4 linked regions of the Homo sapiens genome follow. The protein of the gene in region 1 purifies or fractionates together with the protein of each later gene. This does not show direct contact. Each region holds a gene or a part of one and is shown in the gene's direction. Other genes may lie near its edges.

Evidence for each region.
Region 2: the proteins of BCL7A (region 1) and DPF3 purify together in Homo sapiens (affinity purification with mass spectrometry; 4 studies listed by BioGRID and IntAct, with this or other methods). This does not show direct contact.
Region 3: the proteins of BCL7A (region 1) and ARID2 purify together in Homo sapiens (affinity purification with mass spectrometry; 4 studies listed by BioGRID and IntAct, with this or other methods). This does not show direct contact.
Region 4: the proteins of BCL7A (region 1) and DPF1 purify together in Homo sapiens (affinity purification with mass spectrometry; 4 studies listed by BioGRID and IntAct, with this or other methods). This does not show direct contact.

Annotation. Positions count from the first base shown.
Region 1 is NC_000012.12:122,024,666-122,032,082, forward strand, and holds part of BCL7A (B-cell CLL/lymphoma 7 protein family member A), read left to right. Parts: intron 1-6,034; coding exon 6,035-6,116; intron 6,117-7,417.
Region 2 is NC_000014.9:72,764,972-72,772,388, reverse strand, and holds part of DPF3 (zinc finger protein DPF3), read left to right. Parts: intron 1-495; coding exon 496-656; intron 657-7,417. UniProt on the Homo sapiens protein: Belongs to the neuron-specific chromatin remodeling complex (nBAF complex).
Region 3 is NC_000012.12:45,732,582-45,739,998, forward strand, and holds part of ARID2 (AT-rich interactive domain-containing protein 2), read left to right. Parts: intron 1-7,417. UniProt on the Homo sapiens protein: Involved in transcriptional activation and repression of select genes by chromatin remodeling (alteration of DNA-nucleosome topology). Required for the stability of the SWI/SNF chromatin remodeling complex SWI/SNF-B (PBAF).
Region 4 is NC_000019.10:38,213,969-38,221,385, reverse strand, and holds part of DPF1 (zinc finger protein neuro-d4), read left to right. Parts: intron 1-2,327; coding exon 2,328-2,455; intron 2,456-2,723; coding exon 2,724-2,813; intron 2,814-3,509; coding exon 3,510-3,588; intron 3,589-3,794; coding exon 3,795-3,926; intron 3,927-4,982; coding exon 4,983-5,033; intron 5,034-5,126; coding exon 5,127-5,246; intron 5,247-7,417. UniProt on the Homo sapiens protein: May have an important role in developing neurons by participating in regulation of cell survival, possibly as a neurospecific transcription factor. Belongs to the neuron-specific chromatin remodeling complex (nBAF complex).

The DNA of each region.
Region 1 (7,417 bases):
TTAACCAGATAAAAATACAGCACACCCAGTTAAATTTGAATTTCAGATAAACAATGAAAGATTTTTTTAAAAATAAATGTTTTTGAGTATGTCTCATGCAATATTTGGGACACACTTATACTAAAACATTATCTAATTTATCTGAAATGCAAATTTAACAGGGCACCCTGTATTTTACCCAGAGGGAAGCCGAAGTGTTTGGCAGATCATTTGGCCCCATGAGCCTTGGGTGGGTTTCTCCTCAGCCCTAGTGACCCCTAAAATTACCCCCCCGACCCACCCACTGTCCCCTGATGCTTCCCCCACCCCCGGAAAAAGCTGTGGCCTCCCTCTCATTTGGGGCAGGCTGCCTCCTGTTCTCTTTTTCTGGTGTTTCAGCAAGGCAGGCCAGTGGAGGTGAGGTGACCAGAAGATGGCTAAAGGGAAAACAAAATGGTGGGCCTCTTTTTGGGAAACTGGGCCAGGGTTTGGGGGCCCTGTGCTGGTGGAGGAGAGAAGACCCCAGGGCGATGGTAGGAGACGAAAGCTTGGGCTGCAGCGTAAGCTTGGAGGCCCGCTGCGGTGGCTCACGCCTGTAATCCCAGAGCTTTGGGAGGCTGAGACAGGAGGATTGCTTGAGCCCAGGAGTTTGAGACCAGCCTGGGTCTCAAACCAAAAAAAAAGAAAAAGAAAAAAAAGAGCCGGGCGCGGTGGCTCACGCCTGTAATTTCAGCACTCTGGGAGGCCGGGCAGGCGGATCACGAGGTCAGGAGATCAAGACCATCCTGGCAAACATGGTGAAACCCCGTCTCTACTAAAAAAATACAAAAAAATTAGCCAGGCGTGGTGGCGGGCGCCTGTAGTCCCAGCTACTTGGGAGGCTGAGGCAGGAGAATGGCGGGAACCCAGGAGGTGGAGCTTGCAGTGAGCGGAGATTGCGCCACCGCACTCCAGCCTGGGCAACAGAGCGAGACTCCATCTCAAAAAAAAAAAAGAAGAAGAAGAAAAAAGAAAAATTAGTCTGGACGCAGTGGCTCATGCCTGTAATCCCAGCACTTTGGGAGGCCGAGGCAGGCAGGTCACCTGAAGTCAGGAGTTGGAAACCAGCCTGGCCAACATGGTGAAACCCTGTCTCTACTAAAAATACAAAAAATTAGCTGGATGTGGTGGTACACGCCTGTAATCCCAGCTACTCTTAAGGCTGAGGCAGGAAAATTGCTTGAACCTGGGAGGCGCAGGTTGCAGTAAGCCGAGATCGCGCCACTGCACTCCAGCCTGAGCAACAGAGCAAGACTCCATCTCAAAAAAAAAAAAAAAAAAAAAAGAAGAAAGAAAAGAGAAAAGGCCGGGCACGTTGGCTCACACCTGTAATCCCAGCACTTTAGGAGGCCGAGGAGGGAGGATCACGAGGTCAGGAGATCGAGACCATCCTGGCTAACAGTGAAACCCCATCTCTACTAAAAATACAAAAAATTAGCCGGGAGTGGTGGCAGGCGCCTATAGTCCCACCTACTTGGGAGGATGAGGCAGGAGAATGGCATGAACCCACGAGGCAGAGCTTGCAGTGAGCCAAGATTGCACCACTGTACTCCAGCCTGGGCGACAGAGCGAGACTCCGTCTCAAAAAAAAAAAAAAAAAAAGAAAAAAATTAGACAGGCATGGTGACCCTCGTCTGTAATCCCAGCTACTCAGGAGGCTAAGCCTGGAGGATCACTTGAGCCCAGGAGGTTGAGGCTGCAGTGAGCTACGATTGTGCCACTGTACTCTAGCCTGGGTGACAGGGTGAGACCTTGTCTCAAAAAACAAACAAAAAAAGTAGGCTTAGGCCCAGGACCCCTTAGCACCTGGTCTGAGGGTTCCCTCAATGACTTGCTGTGAGGACTGAGAAAGGTCTGTGCCTGAAGAGCTCCCGTCTGTCCCAGGAGAGGTAGAGGTTTGGGCCTGAGGCCTCCCTCACCTCAGCTCCTCCAGAGGTTTCATCATGGAGACATTCCTACTGGGCACATGGCAGGTCAGGCAGACCTGGGCCTAGCTAGGGTGAGGCCAGCCATGGGCCAGGCCTCTTGAGGTGACAGGGACTAGCCATGAGGAGTGAGTACAAGGACAGGGAGTAGAGCTTTCCTGGAGGGAGTCAGCAGGGTCCCCTTGAGTGGTGGGTAACCCTAAGATGGTCTTGTTGGCTAACCCTTGGACCTGGACACAGGAGAACATTCGAAATTGGCCTTAGCCTGGAGAATCTGGGATGGATTCTTGTAGTTTATATAGGAGTCCGTGCTGGGGAGGAGCAGTTGGGGCTATATTCCTACTGCTGGGACCTCATTTTTTCCTTTCCTCCCAGAAGCTCAAGTGTAATGGGAAGGGAAAGGTGTTGAAGTCAGGGTAAGGTGACGGGGCCGCCAAGACAGGAGGCGCGGGGCACACCCAGGGCCAGCTTTGCAGCAAGTTGGGCTGCAGCCTGGTGGTTGTGGGGATTTCTGCACCTGGTGCTTACAGGTGTCAAGAGTGAGGGCATCTGAGGGGGGCCAGAGAGCCCATCTGGGGCAAGCTGTCGCTCCCTGGGGCATGTGGGCCCAGGTCATGTTTTCAAGAGTAGCCAGAAGTCTGGATTCTTATGCAAAGCCTGTTTTGTTGTTTGTTTGTTTGTTTGTTTGAAGTTTGGCAGCAGATTTAACATTTTTAAAGTACTGTGCAGGCCAAACAAAACACGCCTGTTGACTGGTTGTTTGCCATCCTAAATATAAAGTGGGGCCCATGTGTGGTGGCTCACACCTGTAATCCCAGCATTTTGGGAGGCCAAGGCAGGAAGATCACTTGAGCCCAGGAGGTCGAGGCTGCAGTGAGCAGTGATCGCACCACCGCACTCCAGCCTGGGCAACAGAGGGAGACCTTATCTCAAAAAAATAACAAATAGGCTGGGCACAGTGGCTTATACCTGTAATTCCAGCACTTTGGGAGGCCAAGGCGGGTGGGTCACCTGAGGTCAAGAGTTTGATGTCAGCCTGGCCAACATGGTGAAACCCGTCTCTACTAAAAATACAAAAATTAGCCGGGCGTGGTGGCATGTGCTTGTAGTCCCAGCTACTCAGGAGGCTGAGGCAGGAGAATCGCTTGAACCCGGGAGGCGGAGGTTGCAGTGAGCCGAGATTGTGCCACTGCACTCCAGCCTGGGCCACAGAGCAGGAGTCCGTCTCAAAAAAATAAAAAAAATAAAAAAATAAGAAAGTGATGAGTATAGCTTAATACCCTCATTGGGGAAGAGGAGCAACGCCCTTTTTTGGGGAGGGGTATGTGTTCTGTGGTGATGGTTTTGGGGGGCAATTGTGGGAAACCTCAGCTGCTCCGCTGAACCCGTGTGCCCACCCAGTGTGTCTGTGGCTGTGAAATCCCATGTCCTCCTGGGTGCTCACTTGGTGCCTTAAACTTGAGCTCCATGGCCCCTCCGGGTGGCTGCTTAGCTGAGCATAGGTCCAGCTCAGAGGTAGAATTCTTAATGTTCTTGCCTCTGTCCCAGAGTCCCCTCAATGTCCACACCTAGAAATACAGTTTCTCATCACTGGGGTAACTTGAGAACTCGGTGAAGAGGTTGCCAGTTGGGGCAAAGAGAGGCACGAAAGCCTGGCTGCATTCAGCTTGTAGCCTGCGGTGGCCTCGAGCCTCGCTGGGAAGCAGCTGCAAACTTGCATCTTGGCTGATTTGCGGCCGCAAAGCCCAGATCTCTGGCACACTTTCTGCCCTGAAAGGTGTCCTGTGTGTTACAAGTCAATTACTTTTTTTTTTTTTTCCCAAACACAATCAAACCTTGAATGGGTTGATTTACTGGGAAGCTGGTCCAGGGCTCATGAGTAATGAATGGCTTTGGCCAATCTGCATGGAGTCCTGGCAATTTGTCATTCTTCCTCCAGCTTCTGTTACCCTGGCGCTCCTTTAGAATGATTCTTGGTTTTCATGGCCAACAGAATAGCAGGAGGTGGTGTCTGGGGTCCGAGCCCAAATCTAATTCTCTTCTGCCACTTCCTGTCTGTGAGACCCCAAGCTAGTGGTATAACCTCTCTGGGCATCCTGTTTCTGCATCTGTAAAAAGGGTGACAATCGTCCCCCTCTTGTAGCCTGTTGGGAATCCCAGGGAGAGAGGGTGTGTAAGTAGAGTGCTTGGCGTGGAGCCTGGCATGTAATAGCCTGGGCACACAGTGGCTATTGTGATGGTTGCTCTAACAACTGAGGTTCTTCCCAGGAGCACTCGGTCTCTTCTGGACACCTTCTGATTGCTCAGAATTGAGGAGGGGAAAGGTGGGCATTGTGGTTTGTCTGCTCTGCCCACAGGAGGCAGGAGACGGGCCAGTGGACTTAGACACTCGTCTTTCCTGCATCGTTTCTGGGTGAAAAGGTGCAAGGAGGAGGGAGCAGAGAGGCTGGTCTCAACAGCTGTGCTGGGTGAAGGGTTCGAGTGCTGGCTCTGGGAGAATGAGTTCACCTTCACCGCCCTGTGCCTCGGTTTCTTTATCTGTCAAATGGGGAAGTTGCCATTTCCTGCCGGATGAGCCGGCACAGTCCTTGGTACATAGAAGGCGCTAGGAATGGCCACTGGTATAATAAGAAAAGCCGGGCCGTAGCGTCCTCTGATGGAACACGTGGGACCCGAGCGGGCAGGGTTTTTGGGGGTGAGGTGTCTGTGGTTTCGGCTGGCTGGGTTTGAGTATGCTCCGTCATCCCGCAACCCCCGTGGTGACAGGGTGGGAGTCCTGTAACCTGTCACACCAGCATGTGAGGGCCACATGCCCCACGAGGGGGTGATCTAAGGCTGAGTTTGGGCAGAGAGGCCAAAAAAAGGTGCCAGGCAGCTCACGGACAGAGGTGCTCGTGCCACACAGAATTCTCAGTTCTGGGAATTTTTGTCACCAAAATTGCTGAGGACTCGGGCAGCTACGTCGCCTGTACCAGGGGTGCGCCTGCCCCAACAGTGCCTGCTGGGCCCCTTAAATCCGCCAGCCTCCTAGCTGAGCCATCAGTGGCTCCTTGGTGGCCTCGCAGGTCTCCTGATCTGGCAGAGTCTTGATTTAGGAGCCTCGGTTCCAACCCCAGCCCTGCTTCTGGGAGGCTCTCCTGAGCCTCAGTCCCCTCAGGGGTGTGGCTGCTGGGTCTTCGTGGCGGTAAGGGACAAGTCGGAGTGCAGGGGGTCAAGGACAGGAGGTGGCTGGCTGTAGCAATAATCGGAAAAATGACAGTGGCTCGGAGCAGAGTGGTGGTGGTGGAGGAGAGGGTGGGCATTGTTATCTCGAATGAAAACCAGTCCTGTTTGCTTCTGTGGCTTGTAAGTTTCTCCTCATCCATAAACCTGCCTCTCACAGTGGGGGGTCTGGACTCCGTCCTTCAGGCGTTTGTAATGCAGCTGGGGTGACCTTGCAGACAGGGTCACTAGGAGCCCTGAATCAGGGGTGCAGTTCCCCTCCCACCTGGCTGCACCCACACATTCAGGCTGTGTAACCTCCTTTCGGGCCGAGGTCACCACTCCCTGGCTCTCCTTGGCCGCCACGAAGGGCATTCTTCCGGCAGAGTGTGGGCGGCTCCCCGGCTTGCCTGCTCATGCCTCCCCTGACCTCAGACGCATCGCCCAGAGGGCAGGAGGAGCCCCGGGGTGTCCTTGGTGACGACTCCACCCCCCATGAGAGGAATCGGCCTGCTGGCCTGAAGCCCTCTCTGCTGCCCAGACAGGCGCGGGTGGCCCAGTCCACTGGCTGCGTGGCATTGGCAGTGACACAGGAGGAACCTGGGCCCGACTCGTGCCACCCATAGGAGTCCTTGTAATGGCAGCCCCACCCTCAGCCTTTTTGGCGACAGCCTGGAGAGGGCAACCACCCTATGTGGTGTAACGGGTGGAGAAACCAGGCTTAGATGGGTGATGTGGCCTGCCCAGGGCCTCCCGCTAGTGAGGGTGGAGCTGGGATTCCAACCCTCATCTGTGTGATCTGGAGCTTGCTCTCAGCCCCAAGGGAGTGTGGCCTGTGTCCCCCAGGGATGAAGAGTCCCCGGTAACAGGCTCTTCCTCATCCTCCTCAGGGAGAAGAAATGGGTGACCGTTGGTGACACATCCCTACGAATCTACAAATGGGTCCCTGTGACGGAGCCCAAGGTTGATGACGTGAGTATGGAGGGCTGGTCCCCTGGGGTGGGCCACCCATTCGTGCTCCTCCCACCATGGGGAGGGAGATTGTCCACTGCTACCCACCGTGCTGGGGCTCTGGGACCAAGAGCCCCTGGGAGTAGAAGGACCCAGATTAGACCTGGGGAGGCTGCTGTACCAGTCCCCACCCCTCCCACTCCAGCCCCAGAGTCTGGCCCTCAGAGCGGTGGACGGGGGGATCCCGCAAGCTGTGTCTTCTTCTTCTTCTTCTTCTTCTTTTTGATACAGAGTCTCACTCTGCCGCCCAGGCTGGAGTGCAGTGGTGTGATCTTGGCTCACTGCATCCTCTGCCTCGTGAGTTCAAGCGATTCTCCAGCCTCAGCCTCCCGAGTAGCTGGGATTACAGGTGCACACCACCACACCCAGCCAATTTTTTCGTATTTTTAGTAGAGACGCAGTTTCACCGTGTTGGCCAGGCTCGTCTTGAACTCCTGACCTCGGGTGATCCACCTGCCTGGGCCTCCCAAAGTGCTGGAGTTAAGGCGTGAACCAGTGCGCCCGGCCTGCAAGTTGTGTCTTCTGGGCCGAGCGCCCCCCCCAGGGCTTGGCACTGTGTTTTGGGGCAGGTGTGGTGGTGCCCACAGTTAGGCACGTTCTCCCCACCTTTGTGGTTCTGTTCCTGAGCCTCTGACCATCTGCCAGGCCCTGGGCTGATGCCTCACATGTGGCATCTCCGTTATTTTTCCTACTCAGCCTGTGGAGTTGATCTTTTTAACCTCTCCTCTGTACAAGTGAGGGCACAGGCTCAGAGAGGTGAAGCCACTTCACATGGCTCACCTCAGAGCTGTGAATGGAGCTCAGGTCTGTCTGACTCCAAAGCGCAGGTTCTCTCTGCGCTTGGAGAGGCTTCTGGTGAGTGGAGCTGCTGGTGACAGGGGTCCCCGGTGCTAGGAAAGCCTGGTGTAGGGATGCGGGGCTCCAGGAGGGCTCCAGGAGGGGTGGCGCCATCCCGACTTCCACCACTAGAGGGAATGCGAGGCGCTGTCCTGTGATGGCTGGCAACTGCCCCGAGCAGACAGTGCTCTCCCAACTTCGTGGTTCCCAGGCCAGTTACCTCCAGAGACCCCTCTCATTTCCATCCCAAATCAAGAACAGTCTGCCCCATAGGCCTTTGCCTGGGCCATTCCCCCCTGCCTGGACTGCCTTCCGTATTTACTCAAACTCAGTCCTTCTACCTGGGAAGATGGCGCAGACTAACCCACATGGCTGCGGCCACTCCTGGGAGTGACGTAAAGTCATGATTGGTAGGTTTGGGGTGG
Region 2 (7,417 bases), on another chromosome or scaffold:
GTGTTTCTCTTCTGTTGTAATGGAAAACTGAGTATCTTTGCTGGTGATTTGGGTTCACCTAGAGTGCCTTTGCTGGTGACCTCTGAGAATAAAATGTAGCTAATATGAGTGAGGAGGTTCTAGAAGTGTGATGTCCTCTAGATTCCATGCAGAAGGTTGTTCCAGAGCTACTTCCCTTCTGGAGTGGGACCTCATGCTTCCTAGAACATGGACAGCTCTCTCTTACTGGTGATTCATCCTTGGAAGCCCATGCTCTTTGTTAAAGGAGTTTCTAAGTTGCCTGGTGGATTTGGGATAGAAAATAAAATCTAGTCAAGACCTGACATTGAGTTGCATTCTGCTCATTGGCAAGGCTCTTGGTGCTCATTGCCTTGGTCTTCATAACTGGGAGGTCTTCAGTCTTTCCAGGGAGGTGTGTTTCCCTCTGGGTGTGTTTCCCTCTGGGTGTGTTTCAGTCTTCCCTGGCCTCACCCCTTCACTCTCTGACTCTGGCAGGCTCGGGGACCAGTTCTACAAGGAAGCCATTGAGCACTGCCGGAGTTACAACTCACGGCTGTGTGCAGAGCGCAGCGTGCGTCTTCCCTTCCTGGACTCACAGACTGGGGTGGCCCAGAACAACTGCTACATCTGGATGGAGAAGAGGCACCGAGGCCCAGGTGAGCTGCGCCACTCCTGGGACATGCGCATGTGCAGGCTCCCAGCCTGGAGGGAGGAGGACCGCAGCTTGTCTGGGAAACCAGGCAGCCTGGGTAGGATCGGGGTGGGGCAAGCTGCACATGGGCCTCTGAGATACCTTAAAGAAGCTCAGCTACTTTTATGGCTCCTGGCAGGTGTTTCAAGGAATGTGACAAGGATGGTGTGGGGCATTGAAGCCATGTGGCAGGGGTGGGGTGGGGTGGGGAGTGAAAGAGCTAAAGGTGTTTATCCCAAAGAAGGCAAGACTGAGGACATGACAGCAATCTTCATCTTTTACCTTTGGGTGTTGGTTACAAGCCGGAAATCTGCCATTAGATCTGGGTGTGAGGCTTACCTTTGTCACCAAACTTCTGTCCCTCAGGTTCCTCATCTGTAAAATGTGAATAATAATAGTACTTACCACATAAGATTTCGTCTGAATTAAATGAGAAAATTTATAAAAACTCTTAAATGAGTTTAGCACATAGCAAGTATGTGCTTCCAAAATGCTGGGTATTATTATTATTATTGTTATTTTTTTTTTTTTGAGATGGACTCTTGCTGTGTTGCCCAGGCTGGAGTGCAGTGGTGCGATCTCGACTCACCGCCTCCCGGGTTCAAGTGATTCTCATGCTTCAGCCTCCTGAGTCGCTGGGATTACAGGCGTGCGCCACCACACCCAGCTAGTTTTTGTATTTTTAGTAGAGACGGGGTTTCACCATGTTGGTCAGGCTGTCTCGAACTCCTGATCTCATGATCTGCCTGCCTGGGCCTCCCATAGTGCTGGGATTACAGGCGTGAGCCACTGCACCTGGCCTATTATTATTGATATTACTGTTATTACTACAGCTACAGTGACACTAGTCTTCTAGGCTGCAAAGAACAGAATAAAGACCTTTTTATTAGGGAGACAGCTACAGGAATGTGATTTTTCTGGCTCTGCCTGGATATGTTTTTAAAAATGTTTCATTTGGAAAAATTTCACCTTCATATAAAACTGAAGACAATAGTAAAACACATCCCCATGTAGCCCTGCTTCAACAATGTTCAACTCATGGTCAATCGTGTTTCATCTATACGCACTCCTTACTTTTCTCCCTGACCTCATTTTATTTTGAAGCAAATCCACAAAAGCACGTGATTTCATCTGTAAATATTTTGTTATGTATCTCTAAATGGTAAAGAACTTAAACAAACAAACACACTCACAATCACTATCAGAGCTCAAATAATTAGCAATAAGACTTTAATATCATCAAATATTTGGCCAACATTCATTTTTCCCCCTGTAGTTTAAATCAGGATCCAAATGGGAACCCTACATTGCAACTGGTTAATGTGTCTTTTAACATCTCTGGGTTTCTCTCTGTCTCTGCCTCTCTCTCTTTCCTCCTTGCATGTTACTTGTTGAAGACACTGGGTTGCTTACGCTGTAGGGTTTCCCAGAAGGATTTGGTTGCGTTCCCATGGTGTTATTACTGTGAATTGGTAGTTAGGTCTAGAGATTTATTCAGGTTCCATTTTTTTTTGGTAAGAACAACTCCTGAGTGGTAGTGTGTACTTTCATCAAGAGGCTCATACAGTCTGGTTACCTCTTTTACTGATGTTAGCAGCCCTTCATGATAATTGCCTAGATTCTTTATCCCATTAAGGGTTGCAAAAAGTTAATATTCAATCCAGGACTATCATTATATCTTCATTTGTTAGCTCTACAACTTCTATAAAGAAAAACATTCCCTCATTAAAATTTTAGTTATTGTGAGATACAGTTCACATATGAAAGGCAGGATAAATGACTTTTTTCCCCTCTATTTACCAGTTTTCAAAATAATGAGTTGGTTCCCTAGCATTCTCCAAAGACGATCAATATAATAATAATTATTTTTTTGAATACCACCAGGAACTCACAGATTTAAACATATTTGATGTATTTTAATCCAGTGTAGCTATTATTCTTATGAGGCTTATCTTGCCTCATCTCTGGCCATTCAGGATTCTGGCCAGTGCTGATGTGTTTTTTTTTTTTTTTTTTTTTGAGATGGAGTCTCACTCAGTAGCCAGGCTGGAGTGCAGTGGCATGATCTCGGCTCACTGCAACCTCTGCCTCCCGGGTTCAAGCGATTCTCCTGCCTCAGCCTCCCGAGTAGCTGGGACTACAGGCACATGCCACCACACCCAGCTAATTTTTGTATTTTTAGCAGAGATGGGGTTTCACCATGTTGGCCAGGATTGTCTTGATCTCTTGACCTCATGATCCGCCTGCCTCGGCCTCCCAAAGTTCTGGGATTACAGGCGTAAGCCACCGTGCCCGGCCCAGTGCTGGTGTTTTGAAACAACCCCAGTAGTTTCTGATGGCCTTCTTGCCATCCTAATATTAGGATGAAATATTTCAAGCTCATCCTGTACACTTCCTCCTCTCCAGGACTGAAATCAGCTATTTCTTGAAGAAATCCTGGCTCCTGTTTGTAGGAAAAGTTACTTAGAGACCGCAGTGCTGTTCATTGCTCCTGGCTTGGTCATTGTTTCTAGGCCTTATCAGTGACTAGAACTAAGAAATAGTATTCATTTGTTTTTTTCTTTTTCTTTTTAAGAGAAAATACATTATGAAATTATGTTGATACATCCCATTCAATTTAGATTTAAACAGTTTTTACTTAAGTATCTTAATTCTGTATCTCCTTTCTCCTACACCAAAAAATCCTAGAAATGATATTGATGTAATTACTTATTTGCTTTATTTTACACACACACACACACACACACACACACACACACACACAGACACTCACACACAGTATCAGAACAAACAATATGACTATTAACAATAAGATTACTGAAAAAGGTTTAAGATATTTTCTTTTTTTTGCAAGTCTTTTTGTCCTTAGGGTATATTCCATTAAACATGTGCAGCCAAATTACTCTCCTTTAAGGTCACTGAGATAGTTCCTCTGTGTGATTGTGCCACTAACTCAATACACAGTTGGATTTATTTGTTTCATTTTGCTTTCACTTATCAGGGTTTGCTTTTTGAGTGGGGAGGGGATTCATATAATTTCTTCTTTATTAAATCAACTTTTATCTTGAAATAATTAATAATTGCAATTGTGACTGTATTTGCAATTTGCAGTTGCAAATATAATAGAGATCCCCTATCTTCTTCATCCAATTTCCTCCAAGATTAATACATCTTACAATATCAAAACCAAAAAACTGACATTGGTAAAATGTGTATATGTAGCTTTATGCCATTTTATCACATGTCTAGATTTGTGTAACCACTTCTACAATCAAGATACAAAACTATTCTATTACCACCCAACACTCATTATTTAAATCCTTTTACCCTCCTCCCTTTATAATATAGTTGTCTTAAGCATTTCCTTTACATACATTGAAAACCATACCAGTGTTATAATTTTTACTTCAACCATCAAACATAATTTAGAAAACGTAAGAGAAGCGTTTATTGTATTTACTCATATTTTTACTCCTTCGTTGTTTTTCTTACTTACTGAAGTTCCAAGATTCCTTCTTTTAGCATTTACTTTCTGATGTAGTACTTTCTTTAGCCATTCTTTTAGAGTAAATCTGATGGTAACAACTTCTTAGTTTTCCTTCAGTGGAGAATGTCTTGATTTTGCCATCATTCCTGGAGGATATTTTTGCTGGATATAAAATTCTGAGTTGATAGTCCTTTTATTTTAGCAGTTGAAAAAGGTTTTGCCACTTCTTTCTGATGGTTAGTGATGAGAAATCTGCTGTCATTTAAATGCTTTTTTCCCTTATAAGTAAGGTGTCATTTCTCTCTCATTGTTTTCAAGTTTTTTCTTTGTTTTTAGTTTCAGAAACGTGATTTTGATGTGTTTTGCCATAGATTTTTTGGGTTTATTCTGTTTGAGTTTACTCAGCTTCTTCAACCTGTGGGTTTATGGGGTTTTTTTTTTTTTTTTTTTGCCAAATTTGGGAATTTTTCAGCCATTATTTCTTTGAATACTTCTTCAGTTCAACCCTCTTTCCCCTCTCCTTCTCGGACTTCAACAACACAAATGTTAGATCTTTTGTTATAGTCCCATAAGTCCCTGAGGCTGTGTTCATTTATTTTTAAAATTCTTCTCTCTGTTGCTCAGCTTGGGTGATTTCTATAGTTCTCTCTTCAAGTTCATTGCTTCTTTATTCTGTCCTCTGCCTTCTGCTGTTAAGCCAATCCATTGAGAGCTTTTTTATTTTTTGTTACAATTTTTTTCAGTTTTCAAATTTCTATTTGGTTCTTCATATTTTCTATTTCTTTGCTGAATGTGTTTTATGTGTTCATAATTGCTCGTTGAAACACTTTTAATGATGGCTGCTTTAAGATCCTTGTCAGATAATTCTAACATTTTTGTTATTTTCTTGTTGGTGTCTGTGTCTTTCCTCATTTGAGATTTTCCTGGTTCTTCATAAGATGAGTGGCTTTGACTGAATCTTGGACATTTTGGCTGTTATGTTATGAGACGCTAGATATTATTTAAATCTTCTATATTAGCAGGTCTCCTTTCAAGCTATGCTAGTAGGGGAGGCGAGGCTCCCCTTATTACTGTCAGATGGATGTGGAAATCCATCTTCTCTACTTGGCTTCTGTTGACATCCTCTTTAACAGGGGAAGAACACCTTGTTGTTGCTGAGTGGAGGTGGGAGTTCAGGCTCCCCACTAGGCCTCTACTGGTATTATCCTACTTGGGAGGAGGAGGGCCTCTACTGATACCACAAGGCACCAGCTCTTCCCTTGGCCTTCTCTGACACCAACCCAGCAAAGCTATTGGGATGCCTGCTTGTCTTGCTAGGCTGGTCCTTTCCTGGTTCTCTGGCTAGAGAGAGCAGGATTTTCTTGAGGTCTTTTTTGGTCTTCATTTGTTGGTGTTTCTGGGTTATCAGCTTTTCCAGAATCCAGTCCAGGATATATGAGGCATAAAGGAGACCCAAGATCGGGCTGGACACAGGCTCATGCCTGTAATCCCAGCACTTTGGGAGGCCAAAGGAGGAGGATTGCTTGAGCCCAGGAGTTCGAAACTAGCCTAAGCAACATAGTGAGACCTTGTCTCTATAAAAATTTAAAAAATTATCCAGGTGTGTTGGTGCGTGCCTGTAGTCCCAGCTACTTGGGAGGCTGAGGTGGGAGGATTGCTCAAGCACAGGAGTTTGAGGCTGCAGTGAGCCAGGATTGCGCCATTGCACTCCAGCCCAGGCTACAGAGTGATACTTTGTCTCAATAAATAGCTAGCTAGCTAGATAGTTAGATAGCTAGATAGATAGGTAGATAGATAAAATAATACCCAGGGAGCTCACCACCCACCCTGTTGTTTCTCAGGTCCCAAAGTCCCTAGCTGGTCTGACTGGTTCCCTTCATCTTTCAGTTATTTCTTATGTCTGTTCTATGAATAATGTCCAGGATATTTAGTTGTGCTTAGTGAGAGGAATATAAAAAAGTGTATCTATTTCATCTTTCCAGAAGCAGAAGTCCCTGAGATTGCCTTGTTATTAAAAAAGTTTAACAGCTTTATTGAAGTATAATTACATACAATAAATTGCACATACTTAATGTGTCCAGCTTGATAAGTTTTGACATATATTCACCTGTGGAACCATTACCACAATCAAGATAATGAACATATCCATGACTCGCAAAGGTTTCCTATGTGTTTAGAAATCTATCCTTCCTGCGCTTCTCCATGCCTCTACCCTTCTTTACTCCCTCCCCAGAGAAGCCATTGATTTGCTTTCTATACCAGAAACACACACTGTATACTCCCTTTTGTTTTTTTTTGAGATGGAGTCTCGCCTTGTTGCCCAGGCTGGAGTGCAGTGGCGCAATCTCTGCTCACTGCAAGCTCCGCCTCCTGGGTTCACGCCATTCTCCTGCCTCAGCCTCCCCGGCTAATTATTTTTGTATTTTTAGTAGAGATGGGGTTTCACCGTGTTAGCCAGGATGGTCTCGATCTCCTGACCTCGTGATCCACCCGCCTCGGCCTCCCAAAGTTCTGGGATTACAGGCGTGAGCCACCGCACCCGGCCTGTGTACTCCCTTTTTTAGGGACAAGGGCATGTCTGGCTTCTTTCACTTAGCATAATTACTAATTAATACTATATCAATAATTCCTTTTTATGCTGAGTAGTAGTCCATTGCATGGCTGTATCACAGTTAATTTATCCATTCACCTGTTGATGGACATTTGGATTTGTTTGCAGTCTTTGACTACTATAAATCAAGCCACTATGAACATTTGTGTACAAGTTTTTGAATGGACATATGCTTTCCTTTCTCCTTGAGAGGTTAACTACCTAGGAGTAGAACAACTAGATCATAAGAGAGATAGATGTTTCACTATTAAAGAAACTGCCAAGCTCTTTTCCAAAGTGGTTGTACCATTTTACATTGACTCCAGCAATATATGAGAGTTCCACTTCCTTTGTATCCTTGCCAACACTTGGTGTGGTCAGTTTGAAAATTTTTTTAGCCATTCTAATAGATATATAGTAGTATTTCATTGCAGTTTCAACTTGCATTCCCCTAGTTAATAATGATTTTGAGCATCTTCACATGTGCTTATTTGCCATCTGTGAGGGAAAATAAACTGTTTTATTCTCTATACTTTTACTCAATATTTCTGTGAGCAGATGTGTGGATGTCTTTTCCCCTACACCAAGCAATTCTCCAATTCCCTGCGGACACCAACTGGGTGTTCCACAGTTTAACTCAACTTTGACA
Region 3 (7,417 bases), about 76 Mb from region 1:
GTAGTGGGGTGAGAAACAAGAGAGTTTTATATTCATCGTGACATTCATTTGCTCATTTCTATTTATGATATTGAGAGGAACATGTTAATACATATTCTGGTTTTATGTTTTTATCAGTTTAAAGCATTTGAATTTTGGACTGTTTGAAATACATATTTTTGAAGTTTTGCTTCATATTTGTTAGATTGATTGACTTAAGTTTTATAACCAGAAAGTACTATAGAATATACATGATTCATGAGATGTATATTTTTCTGAAGAGTTTACATTCATACTAATAGTTTTAGCATAATCAAATTAATATCTAGGCTTCCAATTTTTTTTAACAAAAGTTAATTATAAATATTGTTTTTCCAGTTGTCATTTTTATCTTGGGAGGATATCATTAATTATAGGTACTGTTTTTAACTATATAGTTTCAACATTGTAAGTATTTACATGGTCTTCAGATCAAATTGGGCTTTTTGCTCTTATTAGAAGCTGCTTTTTGAACTATGTCCTTAGTTAAACTTGTTTTTCCTCCATATGTCACTCTCTAGGTTTGTTTTTGCAGGGTTGTAGCTAGGCTACTAGGAAAAAAGTTGAAGCATTTGTTTTGGAAAATAAAACCATGTGAAGATTTGCATGGCTTGTAAAGAAATACAAAAGAAATATGCTGGTCAAAACTTAGGTACTACCAACCTTGAAAGAATTTTTTCCTGGTGGTCTAATATTGCACAGTAAGAGGATATATATGATGCTAGCTTTTACACCTTCCTCTGAAAAATCTTAATTGGCAGACAAGATGCCAAGTAACAGCAATTCTATTACCTACCCATAAGATTGGCTCTTCATAGTAAGAAATAGTAATCGAGTGACTTGATAAGTTACCTCTTTGCTACGTCAGATTGAATATCATCATTACTGATGAGCAGATAATGCAGTGTGTTTTTTAAATTACAAGTGGAATAATTTTTTAATATGAACTGCTTTTTCATTTGACCTATTGTAAGACTGTCATTATATGTGTTATTCCTCCTTTACAAGTTTAATATTTGCTCACATTCCCCTGTAAGTTTGCTATTAATTGGATGGATGGCTGTTAGCCTAGTGTTTTATGATATATCTTCATAATATTACAGATAATTTAAATTAGGAAGAGCAAGCTAGTATGCTGGCCATGTATATTTTAATAGTGTTTTGTTATTTTTGATACAAATATTGACAGTCATTAAATATAGACTTGAGTATTAATGGTCTGCCAGACATTAACTTAATTTTCTCAAATATACATTTATTCAGTTATAGCTTGTCTACAAAAATTTCTTAGAGTCTAAAATTGAAAATGCAATTGATTATTTTAACATTGGCATTTAATTTTTACAAATATAAGTGCCTGCCTGTATCAAAGTTTCTCACCTACTCCAGAAATATATACACGTACTGTGTACCCACAAAAATTAAAAATTAAAAAAAAGTAAAGTGCTTACAGATAATGTGTAAAAGCAGTCTATTTAAAAATTGGAGGCCAGGTGCGGTGGCTCACGCCTGTAATCTCAGCACTTTGGGAGGCCGAGGCAGACGGATTACCTGAGGTCAGGAGTTTGAGACCAGCCTGGCCAACATGGTGAAACCCCGTGTCTACCAAAAATAGAAAAATTAGCCTGGCATGGTGGCTCATGCCTGTAATCCCAGCTACTTGGGAGGCTGATGCAGGAGAACTGCTTGAGCCCGGGAGTCGGAGGTTGCAGTGAGCGGAGATCGTGCTACTGCACTCTAGTCTGGCCGACAGAGTGAGACTCTTTCTCAAAAAAATAAAATAAAATAAAATAAATAAATTAAAAATTGGATACTAATCATCTGTGATGTTTATGCACTTTATTTTCATGTAGTTCCTTTTCTTGGCATGTACATCTCAATGTGTTCCACCAATGTTTATTATTAGGATATTCCTATAGTATGAAAGGATAAGGTATAGTTTCCCACATTTTGTAGATGGAGATATTAAAGTGCAAAAAAAAAAAAAATTAAATGGCTTAGGGAACATTTCATTAATTGGACCAAAATGTTGTGTTCATGACGTGTTCAATAATATTTGGAAATTACTTATGGTTAAATTTATGCCCAAGTATCTCTTTGCCTAATGTGTTCCATATTTACTTGGTGGATTTTAATTTTTTGTTCTGTTTTGTTGTTGAAATTGGGGGACAGTTTGCTGGTCTTATCTGGGTTAAGAATTTGAAGTTTTGGTATGAAGATTTAGGTAAATATTTCAAATATTTTAAAATTTTGTTTTTGCTTACTGATGCCAATATTACAGCTATAGTCAAGGTTAACTTGATGTTTCCTTTATAAAACTTGATTTTTTTGGAAAGGGGGTGAAATATCTTGGACATTAAAAATTTATTGTACAAAACTATATGTTACTAGTTTTCTGGCACTGAAATATTCATTTCTATTTATATGTACCTACCTTTAGAATAGTCAGAAACTTAATTGTAGAGTTATGTTTACCATAGTACATTTTCAATCGCATTGTGAATTTATTCTATTTTTTTTTTCTTGGTGGGTAAAGCTCTTTCTTAAATTACACCATTTGAGGGAGTTTACATTTGTTAGTTAAATTGAATGAATACACTCATGTGTTCTCTAGTTAGTGTCCACCATATAGATCAATTCTTTTAAGAGAAAGCCTTAGGTATATAAGCACTGAGTTTGTAAATTGCTAAACGGAACTGAATAAACTGATTGCCCTTCTTATTCAAGGAAGGAAAATAAAAGTATATGGAGATTGGAAGACAAATATATCAATAAGTTATTCATGCATGTATTTCAAATTTAACTTTATAAACTGTATCGTGTGTGTGTGTGTGTGTGTGTGTGTGTGTGTGTGTGTGTGTAGACAGGGGTCTTGCTTTGTTGCCCATGCTTGTCTTGAATGCCTGGCTTCAAGGTATCCTCCCGCCTCAGCCTTCCAAAGTGCTGGGATACAAAAGTGAGCCACTGTGCCTCAGCCTTCCAAAGTGCTCGGATACAAAAGTGAGCCACTGAGCCTGGCAGTGTATCCATTTTAAAAAACAAAAAACCTGATTTTGATATTTTCTGATATTCTGTTACGTTTTTAAAGGACATGCAGACTTGTTGAAAGGAAGAGCAGAAAGTGGAGAAAGTTGAAAGACTTATCAAAGCTCAGCTAGGTTAGTGTTATGTCTTAGAATCCATGTTTTTAGAGCTTAAATTGCCCAAAGTAGAAATAAATTGAGTTCTTTCTAAGACAGATAGTTTTCACTGAGGTTACAAATTTTCCTGAGGATACAAAATGAGAACATTATAATTCCCAAAAATGTTTATATGCTTTTTTTTTGCAGTTAAATTTTCTACCTTAGCTGTTAACTAAAAATGTCCCTGAATAGAAGCACTCTTTCATAATCCTATCTCTGCTTTGTTGTGGATTCAGTATTTTCATAGTTGATCGTGTGAAATCTATAACGTCTTTGATAGACAAGTATATTGTGGCCGGGCGTGGTGGCTCACGCCCTGTAATCCCAACACTTTGGGAGGCCAAGGCAGGCGAATCACAAGGTCAGGAGACCAAGACCAGTCTGGCTAACACAGTGAAACCCTGTCTCTACTAAAAATACAAAAAATTAGCTAGGCGTGGTGGCATGCACCTGTAGTCCCAGCTACTCGGGAGGCTGAGGCAGGAGAATCACTTGAACTCGGGAGGCGGAGCTTGCAGTGAGCCGAGATCGTGCCACTGCACTCCAGCCTGGGTGACAGAGCGAGACTCCGTCTGAAAAAAAAAAAAAAAGTATATTGCTACTAGATATTTTATATTCTCAAACTGAATGAAATTAGAAGTTGGAAAGGAAGGAAAAACACAGTTTTAACTGCATTTCATTAGTCAGTGAGCAGGTACTTAATATATATTTTTAGGTAAAGTATTTAAAAGTTTTAATTATATTGTGAAGGTGCTTATTGGGTGTTTTCCAGACCTACTAAAGTTTAATGATAAAAATGGATTTTGTCTGAATTGGGAAGGACATAGAGGATAAATGGAGCAGACGGATGGGGTTGAGGGGATTCTCCTTTTGCTGCTTTGATCACCACAGTCTTTGGTATTCAGGGCCAACTAGAGTTTGTACTCTAGAAACACTAGTTTTCCAGAAATGTTAATATATTTCCATGAAAAGAAGACGAAATGAACTTGAGCAAAAGGCTAAACTTGGGTTACTTTATTGCAGGACTTCTTAGAGACTTTATTTTGCTAATGTGTATTGTGGATCTCTAGACATTTTGGGGAAACATTACTACTTCTCTTCCCTTCCCCATAGTAAATAGTGTTTCACCAGTGTTTCACCCCACAGTAAATAGTGTAACACCATCGCCAAAACTGCAATTACTTGTGCACCAACCTAAGAGATGCACAACTATACATTTTCTACTGTTTAAACTATAATGTGATAAAAGAAATAACAAACTTTTTTCTGTTTTAAAACATAAATTTCACTTGTGCTTGGATACTTTCTGTGTATTCATTATGTTGTGAATTGATAATTCATTTGACTAAATACATTGCAATAAACTATTGCTGGAATGGAAGTCTCTTAGTGATGTCCAGGAATAGCTATCACATTCTGAATTGTTGACCAAAAATGATAGACCCATATTCCATGAATATCTAAGTCAGCGTTTACAGGGCTTCACTCCCATCTTACTGCCATAGAAATTTTTGGTGGAGCCCCAGGGAGAATGTGCTGGTTTTGATGTTTTGGCTGCTGCCTTCCCTCTCCCCCCGCCCTTTTTTTCCCCATTATACCATTGATTTGGAGTAAAGGGGTCAATTTGTTCTTTAGACTGTCTTAAATTCTGGCTTTGATTGCTTTCTTTTGGTGTCAATTAACTTGTTCCTCTATCCCTCATACATATTTGCTGAAAAGTGATAGATCTAAAGGTTAATAATATTCAGATTTAATATTTTAGGCATACTTGATAGGTACTGCTGTGCTTTTCATCATATCATGAGGCATATAATGTTTAGTTGTCCCCTTTTAGTGATGCTAAGATTGAACAGTGGTTTTAGGTATTAATAATTTGATTAATATGTATTTCCAAAAAGTGCTCCAGGTGATTCTTAAGTACACTGAAGTTTGAGAACAGTTGATCTAAGTATTGTAATGAAACCAATTTAGTTGCTGAGATGACTAGTTTAACATGGCATGAACATATTGGTCAGGGTTACATCCAGAACAAAACCTCCAGGTGACATCTGGTCTAGGGGCACCTGCTCAAGCTGCACCTGTCATCTCTGACCACAGCTTGGACACACTTATACTTTGTCTCTGGACTCTAGAGAAGGTAACAAGGGCTCCACTTTAGTTAAGGGAAAAAAAGAGTAAATGAACTACCAAATTCTAACTTATCCTAAGTGTGTTTATGTAATTTGGATTAAAAAAATTAATTAAAAATAAGTGTTCCTCACTTATTCCTAATTGGAGAACTTTCTTTACATATATGTATGGTTTTTTTTTCTCATAGAACTTTACTATATTCTTTCCAAATGGGGTACCATTTGTTTTACTGAATTTACTGGATGCTTGTTTGTGAAAATTTTGTTGGTCTGTCCTGGTATTTCGTAGTAGAGTTAACATGTATAAATTCCTGTGAAAGTAATAATACTAACAATAACCTGTTTTGTTTAATGTCCACCAGCTTTGTTTTTCAAAACATTTTCATATGGGAGATTTTATTTATTTATTTTTATTTATTTTTGAGACGGAGTTGCTCTCTGTCACTCAGGCTGGAGTGCAGTGGCATGATCTTGGCTCACTGCAACCTTCACCTCCTGGGTTCCAGTGATTCTCCTGCCTCAGTCTCCCAGGTAGCTGGAATTACAGGCGTGTGCCACCATACCCGGCTAATTTTTGTATTTTAGTAGAGATGGGGTTTCAGTTGGCCAAGCTGGTCTACAAACTCCTGATCTCAGGTGATCCACCCATCTTGACCTCCCAAAGTGTTGGGATTACAGGCATGAGCCACTGCACCCGGCTGGCCGGAGATTTTATTTTTATCATTTCAAATTTGAGAAGTAATTGTGTTATTTAATCTTAGAAAAAATAACAACTAGGAAAAATATTCTTTCTTTTTTTATGTATAAAAGCAAGGGAAAAAATTCTTTATGCCACCCAAACTTTTTTCTTCCTGGGGCATATGGGCTACTTTTTTTTTTTTTTTTTTTTTTTTTTTTTTTTTTAAGGCTTTAGGTTATATCCAACTCCCAGCCTTAAGTGTCAGCCACAGTTGCTAGTCAGGAAAGGATATTTTACATATTTTCAGACCCTACTTTCCCTGCTTCACCTTCCCATTCCCTTCCCTGCTGATAGACCTGCTGTACATTTTACAGAGTGTTGTCTTTTTTTTTCTTTTTGAGACAGTTTCGCTCTTGTTACCCAGGCTAGAGTGCAGTGGTGTGATCTTGGCTCACTGCAGCCTCCACCTCTTGGGTTCAAGTGATTCTCCTGCCTCAGCCTCCCAAGTAGCTGGGATGATAGGTGCCCGCCACCATGCCCAGCTAATTATTTTGTTTTTTTGCTTTTTTAGTAGAAATGGGGTTTCACCATGTTGGCCAGGGTGGTCTCAAACTCCTGACCTCAGGTGATTCACCTGCTTTGGCCTCCCAAAGTGCTGAGATTACAGGCGTGAGCCACTGCGCCCGGCCAGAGCATTGTCTTAATTGTCTTATAGATAATCCTACATTATCCATAGTTGCTATTCATCTTATGCAGGTATATTCCATGTTCCAGGTGTGCTTGGCTTTTATTTGTATCAGTAAATAATTTTTAAAACTACCATATAATTGGGATAAAATATAAAGTTACTTTTTTTTTTTTTTTTTTTTTTTTGAGACAGCGTCTGGCTCTGTCGCCCAGGCTGGAGTGCAGAAAGTTACTTTTTATGAAGAATTCAAATAAAGTTGTGTAATCTATTGTTTGGATAAACATCTTATTGTAAAATATGGCCAGGTTTCATAATTCTGGTCTTTCTGAGTTCTTACTGTCATACTTGATAAGTATTTATATATAGTGGCCAGTAGTCAATTGCTGTGTGCACAAAGATGATCTTTATTAAATAATACGTATCTTTCATGGTGAAGTGTTTTTGGGTGAAATTTTATTCTGTCTCTATGCTAGCCCAGCGATTAATTTTAAATAAATAAAATGTTAATATAAACATACATGAGATCAGTGGGAACATTCTTCTATTACAATAGGTCAAGGAAGAGACCATAGCTAGGGCCCTGTCCAGAAAATACCTAATTTGTAATATTTTAAAAATGGGATGAATTTAACTTTTTCAGTAGTAAGGCTCAGGTTGATCACACTTTCCATAATGGTTCATAGATTAAGTGAATTTGCAATACGCTTGAGCTCAGATCAGA
Region 4 (7,417 bases), on another chromosome or scaffold:
TTGTATTTTTAGTAGAGACAGGGTTTCACCATGTTGGCCAGGCTGGTCTCGAACTCCTGACCTCAGGTGATCCACCTGCCTTGGCCTCCCAGAGTGCTGGGATTACAGGCTTGAGTCACCATGCCCGGCCATCTGCCTGTATTTTTTTCTGTGGGTGCCTGAGGGTGTCTGCCTCTGTATCTCCCCAAGGGCGTCTGGATGTCTCAGTGTCTGGTTGGAGCTCTTTCCTCTCTTAGGTGTATCTTCCCAGGTGTCTCCAAGTGTCTTAGAAGGCTTGTGTCTTGTGTATGTCTGGTCTGTCAGGGTGTCCGGCTCCTCCCGAGTGTGTCTGGGTGTGTTAGGCGGTGCGGCCGTCTCTTTCTGTGGGTGTGTGGGTGCCTCGGAGTGTCTGGGAGAATCTTCCTGATGGTGTCTGGCGTATCAGGTGTATTTCTGCACGTGTGTGCCAGTCCATCAGAGGATCTGGACTTACCCTTGAATGTGTTTAGGAATATCGGGATCCTCGGGGTCAGTTTCTCTTCCTGAGTCCGAGGGTCTGTGTGTACCCAGGAGCGTGGCAGTGCCCACCTGGCTGTGTCTCTTCCTGTCTGTCTCCTGTGTGTGTTTGTGTGTATCTAGCTGAGTGATTCTCCCTGAGTATGTCGGTATCTCCCCGCTATGTGTCCAAGCATCTCATCTGGCTGTGTCTTCCCCAGGGTCTAGGTGTATCTGGAGGGCTAATTGTTTCTTTCTTTTTTTCTTTTTTCTTTTTCTTTTTCTTTTTTTTTTTTGAGACGGAGTCTTGCTCTGTCGCCCAGGCTGGAGTGCAGTGGCGCGATCTCACTGCAAGCTCCGCCTCCTGGGTTCACGCCATTCTCCTGCCTCAGCCTCCCGAGTAGCTGGGACTACAGGCGCCTGCCACTACGCCCAGCTAATTTTTTGTATTTTTAGTAGAGACGGGGTTTCACCGTGTTAGCCAGGATGGTCTCGATCTCCTGACCTCATGATCTGCCCGCCTCGGCCTCCCAAAGTGCTGGGATTACAGGCGTGAGCCACCGCACCCGGCCTCTTTCTTTCTTTCTCTTTCTTTCTTTCTTTCTCTTTCTTTCTCTCTCTCTCTTTTTCTTTTCTTTCCTTCCTTCCTTTCTTTCTTTCTTTCCTTCCTTCTTTCTTTCTTTCTCTCTCTTTCTTTTTCTTTTCTTTCCCTCCTTCCTTCCTTCTTCCTTTCTTTTTTTTTTTCACCCAGTTTGGAGTGCAGTGGCACGATCTCGGCTCACTGCAACCTCCGCATCCCGGGTTCAAGTGATTCTCTGCCTCAACCTCCTGAGTAGCTGGGATTACAGGCATGTGCCCCTACACCCGGCTAATTTTTGTATTTTTTTTTTTTTAAGTAGAGATGAGGTTTTACCATGTTGGCCAGGCTGGTCTCAAACTCCTGACCTCAAGTGATCCACCCGCCTCAGCCTCCTAAAGTGTTGGGATTACAGGTGTGAGCCAACGCGCCTGGCCAGCTAATTGTCTCTGAGCATTTCTGAGTGTACCCATGGGTCCAGCTATGTCTCCTCCCTGTGTCTGGGTGTCTCCAAGGATCTGGCTATACCTCTTTGAGTCTCTAGGCTGTATCTGAGAGTGTGGCTTATGCCTGTAATTCCAGCACTTTGGAAGGCCGAGGCAGAGGATCGCTTGAACTCAGGAGTTTGAGACCAGCCTGATTAACACGATGAAACCCCATCTCTACCAAAAATACAAAAATTAGCCCAGTGTGGTAGCATGCCAGCTACTCTGCCTGTAGTCCCAGCTACTCAGGAGGCTGAGGTGGGAGGATCACTTGAGCCTGGGAGTCGCAGTGAGCTGAGATTGCGCCACTGCACTCCAACCTGGGTGACAGAGCGAGACCCTGTCTCAAAAAAAAAAGAAAAAAGACAGCATGGCTGGGCCTCTTCCTTCCCGCATCTGTCTCAGACGATCTGTCTGGATGTCCCCTGCGGGTGTCCCTGTGTCTCCTCTGCGAGTGTCTGGATCTGTCCATATTTGTCTGGGTATGTTTGAGAGTCGCTGTGTCTTCCCTGAGTAGGTCTGGGTGTGCCTGATGGCCTAACTGTGTCTTTTTCTGAGGCTTTCTGGTGTATCCAAAGTTCTGACCGTGTCTCCTGCTGTGCATCCCAGGGCATCTGAGGGCGTGACTGGGTCTCCCCAGAGTCTGGGCCTCCCTCCTAGGGCATGTGGTTAAATCCTTGCCTCTGCAGCCTCTTCCCTCCTGCAAAGAGCATGGTCCCCCCACCTGCATAGTTTGAGGAGTCCTCCGGGGTCAACTTCCCCATCTGACCCCCCCATGGCCCTGTCCCCAGACTGTGAAGCACCCCTGAAGAAGGAGGGTGGCCTCCCGGAAGGGCCGGTCCTCGAGGCTCTACTGTGTGCAGAGACGGGGGAGAAGAAGATTGAGCTGAAGGAGGAGGAGACCATTATGGACTGTCAGGTGGGCCCACCTCTGGGGGACCCCCGCTGCATGGCTTCGTCTCACCCCTGCCTGCCACCAGCCCGGGCCCTCACGTTCCTGCTCTGAAACCCCCCCGGTTTCTTCTGGCTGTTGGGCATCCCAGTCACCATCCTCCCAGACTTCATCTCTATTTGGAAGAACTCCTGACTTATACTCTCACCCCCAATCTCCACCTTTGCCCAGAGCCCCTCAAAAGCAGGTCAGTGGCCCCCACTTTCTTGACCCGTCTCCTTTCTCTATTGCCCAGAAACAGCAGTTGCTGGAGTTTCCGCATGACCTCGAGGTGGAAGACTTGGAGGATGACATTCCCAGGAGGAAGAACAGGGCCAAAGGAAAGGTATCACCCCAAGCTTCTCCTCTTCCCCGCTCCCCTCAATGACAGGTCTCATTCATGGAGCAGGTGCAGTGGTCCGCCCCTGCCACAGTCTGACCTCAGTCTGACCTCATTGAATCCCCAGAGCGGCCTGCAGGGGTGGGGGATTTTATACCCATTTTACAGATGAGGAAACTGAGGCTCATCTGTATTAAGCCATTTGCAAAGCAGAGATTATGCAGTGGGTTAGAGCTACCTTCATCCCCATGCCACAGAGGAAGAAGCTGAACCTTGGAGAGGTTCAAGGCCCCACAGCTAGGACATTTGTACAGCTGCAATTTGAATTTGCAAAAGACACTGTTTTCTCACTTTCTTTTTTCTTTTTTTTCTTTTTTTTGAGACGGAGTCTCGCTCTGTCACAGGCTAGAGTGCAGTGGCGCAATATCTGCTCACTGCAACCTCCGCCTCCCGGGTTCAAGCGATTCTCCTGCCTCAGCCTCCCGAGTAGCTGGGACTACAGGCACGCGCCACCATGCCCAGCTAATTTTTCTATTTTTAGTAGAGACGGGGCTTCACCATGTTGGCCAAGGTGGTCTCGATCTCTTGACCTCGTGATCCGCCTGCCTCGGCCTCCCAAAGTGCTGGGATTACAGGTGTGAGCCACCACGCCTGGCCTGTTTTCTCACTTTCTTGGCCCCTCACTCCTGACTCTCCCCACAGGCATATGGCATCGGGGGTCTCCGGAAACGCCAGGACACCGCTTCCCTGGAGGACCGAGACAAGCCGTATGTCTGTGATAGTGAGTCCTTCTGAAGAGGGGGAAAGGCAGAGAGAGGGGTGCCCAGAGACTCCCCACCTCGTGGCCCTCTCCCTCCCGTTCCAGACCCGGGTTGGGAGGCTGCTCAGGTCTCTGGCTGAGGGGGGAGGTGTGATCCTGGAGGCCAGGGTGGAGGCGGCAGGGGCCCGGAGGGGCTGACAGGCCCTCCTGGCTCGCTCGCTCCCCAGTCTGTGGGAAACGGTATAAGAACCGGCCGGGGCTCAGCTACCACTACACCCACACCCACCTGGCCGAGGAGGAGGGGGAGGAGAACGCCGAACGCCACGCCCTGCCCTTCCACCGGAAAAACAACCATAAACGTGAGCTGGCAGGCCAGGTGGGGGTGGCCAGGGGCCCTGGGAGTGGGGAAGAGGAGCCCAGCTGGGGGTGGGGGTGGGGGGGCATTAGACATTTCTGGAAAATCTCCAGCTCAGCCGTTCCCTCCCCCCACCGACCATGGGGATGCTGGCTCCGGGGTTGCCATGGCAACCAACCATCGCTCCTTCGCTCCTGGCCGGGCGTAATATTTCTGGGTCTGATTTATTGTTTCAATTAGAGCTTGGGGAGGGGGGGTGATAGATGGCTCCCCTCCCGCCCTGCCTTCCCTTTCTCCTTTCTCTGCTAAGCTTTGGTCAAGGGGCAGGGTCTGTGGCCTGGGAGCCCTTGGCTTCCGCCCTTGCCAATCCCATGCCAGTTCTGACAGCTGAAGGATGGGGGAGGGGAGGAGGGTTTGGGAGAGGCAGTAGGGAGACACTGTCTTCCCACCTATCTCTCAGAGGCAGAGGCTGAGTGTCTTCACCCCTGGCCACTACACACCCACGCACCTCAGTGTTCGGAGTTTTTCTTCCGAGTGTCTGTTTCCATACCAGATCTTGGCTGGGGTACTCGCTGAATTTGTTAGATACAAATTACTGAGGGTGCAGTTGGGAGTGGCTGGCTGGGAGACATGTATGTGAGAAGGGAGGCAGGGAGCCCTTCCTCAAGCTGTCTACCAAGTTTTGACCCAATAAAGAGGACATGTCAGTTGTCTCAAGGAGTTGGGAATCCTGGCTGGGTGCAGTGGCTCACGCTTATAATCCCGCCACTTTGTGGCAGTGGCCGAGGTGGGAGGATCACTGGAGGCCAGGAGTTGGAGACCAGCCTGGGCAACATACCAAGACCCTGCCTTTATTTTTAATTGAAAAAAAAATTTAAAAAGGCAGAGTTGGGAGTCCCGATGAGAACTGTTTTCACCTCTCCCCACAGCTTGGGGTAGCTACTCACTCTTCCCAGCTCCCCACGCCTGGACTAAGAGGTCCATCCTTGGGGCTGAGGCTGGGGGCAGGGTGGAGCCTTGCCTGTGGTGAGAGTCCCTCTCTCTGTCCCCCCTACCCCAGAGTTTTACAAAGAATTGGCCTGGGTCCCTGAGGCACAAAGGAAACACACAGGTACGGATGCCTCCTTCTGCTCCTAAAGTCTGCAGCCACCTTTGCGGGGTGCCCTTGCCTGCCCCGTGCCAATGCCTGTCTGCTGTCTTGCAGCCAAGAAGGCGCCCGACGGCACTGTCATCCCCAACGGCTACTGTGACTTCTGCCTGGGGGGCTCCAAGAAGACGGGGTGTCCCGAGGACCTCATCTCCTGTGCGGACTGTGGGCGATCAGGTGATGCTCCCCACCTGAGGTTTCTGGGGGCCGGGTGCAGAGGACATTCAGGAGTGCAGACCTGGAGGGAGGGAGGCAAGGCGGTGAGGACCGAGGGGACCCGGAGCATGTAGGGGATACTGTGGATAACCAGAGCTAGCGAGGCTGATGCAACTGCTGAGGATTGTGGGAATTGGGTCGGATCAGTGAGGCTTTAGGGATAATGGGATGTGGCTCTCATGGCACTGTGGGTAGCTGCCTGTGCTTAGCATGGCATCAAGAGTAGTGAGAGGCCAGGTGTGGTGGCTCACGCCTGTAATCCCAGCACTTTGGGAGGCAGAGGTGGGAGGATCACTTGAGGCCAGGAATTTGAGACCAGCCTGAGCAACATAGCAAGACCCCCATCTCTACAAAAAATTTAAAAATTATCCAGGTGTGTTGTTGTGCACCTGTAATCCCAGCAACTCAGGAGGCTGAGGCCGGAGGCTCCCTTGAGCCCAGGAGTTTGAGACCAGCCTGGGCAACATAGTGAGATCCCATCTATATATAAAAAAAGTTAGCTGGGCATGGTGTTGCACCCCATTAGCCCCAGCTACTCGGGAGGCTGAAGTGGGAGGCTCGCTTGAGCCCAGAAGGTTTTTGTTTTGTTTTGTTTTGTTTTGTTTTTTGAGACAGAGTCTCCCTCTGTCACCCAGGCTGGAGTGCATTGGCATGATCTTGGCTCACTGCAACCTCCGCCTCCTGGGTTCAAGTGATTCTTGTGCTTCAGCCTCCCGAGTAGCTAGGATTACAGGCACCCGCCACCATGCCTGGCTAATTTTTAATATTTTTAGTAGAGACGGGGGTTTCACCATGTTGGCCAGGCTGGTCTCAAACTCCTGACCTCAGGTGATCTGCCTGCCTTGACCTCCCAAAGTGCTGGGATTACAGGCGTGAGCCACCGCAGCACCCAGCCCCTTGAATCTGGGAGTTTTTGACTAGCCAGGGCAACATAATGAGAGCCCATCTATTAAAAAAAAAATAGGCCAGGCTGGGTGATGTGGCTCACATCTGTAATCCCAGCACTTTGGGAGGCTGGGGCGAGCAGATCATGAGGTCAAGAGATCAAGACCATCCTGGCCAACATGGTGAAACCCCATCTCTATAAAAATACAAAATTTAGCTGGGTGTGGTGGTGCGTGCCTGTAGTTCCAGCTACTCCGGAGGCTGAGGCAGGAGAATCGCTTGAACCCGGGGCTCAGAGGTTGCCATGAGCCAAGATTGCACCACTGCACTCCACCCTGGGTATCAGAGCAAGACTCCGTCTCAAAAAAAAAAAAAAAAAAAAAAGGCTGGGCATAGTTTCGCACCCCATTAGTCCCAGCTACTCGGGAGGCTGAGGTGGGAGGATCGCTGGAGCCTGGGAGGTCAAGGCTGCAGAGTGCACTGTGATGGTGCCACTATGCTGCAGCCTGGGCAACAGAGTGAGACCTTGTTTCAAAAACCAAAACAAGACAAAAGGAGTAGCAAGAGACAGGGGCCAAGGCATGGCAGGTAGTGGGCTGTGTGGTGTGAGTGACGGACACCACCACCTGGGCACCGGTAGCAGGATGAGCTCGCCATAGAGTTGTGGTTAACAGAATGTGGTTTCCCATGGTGGGCTTGTGGGCAATATAGACTCTGGTTGCCTCAGCACAGTAGGTCATGAATTGTGGTTGTCGTGGCATCATGGGTAGTGAAATATGGTTGTCATGGCAACTCAGTATAATGGAATGTAGTTGTGATGGCACCGGGGCCGTGGTTGCAGGGGGCGGGCGCCATGGGTCGTGGCTGCAGGTAGCGGCTGCGGGTGTCTCTGCAGCGGGGCTGTGGAATGACTAAGCCTGGCGCTGCACAGTGCTGTGATGTGAGTAACAGTTTTGTTGCTGGGGCACCAAGTGGAATGGACTTCAGTTGCATGAAACCGAAGTGTGGGGACCCCGTTGTGGAAGGTGGTTGCCATGGCATTGTGGCTGGGAGAGTGTGGTTGCCACGTTGCTGTGGTTAACAGGACCCCTGGCCGTTCTGCTGTGGGTAATGGAAAGTGGCTGTCTCAGCACGGTGGTTAACAGAATGTGGTTGCCACGGTGTTGTGGGTGGTAGAAAGTGGTTGGCACAGCACTGTGGGTAATGGAATGCGGTTGCCATGGCGTTCTGGGGAGCAGAGTGTGGTT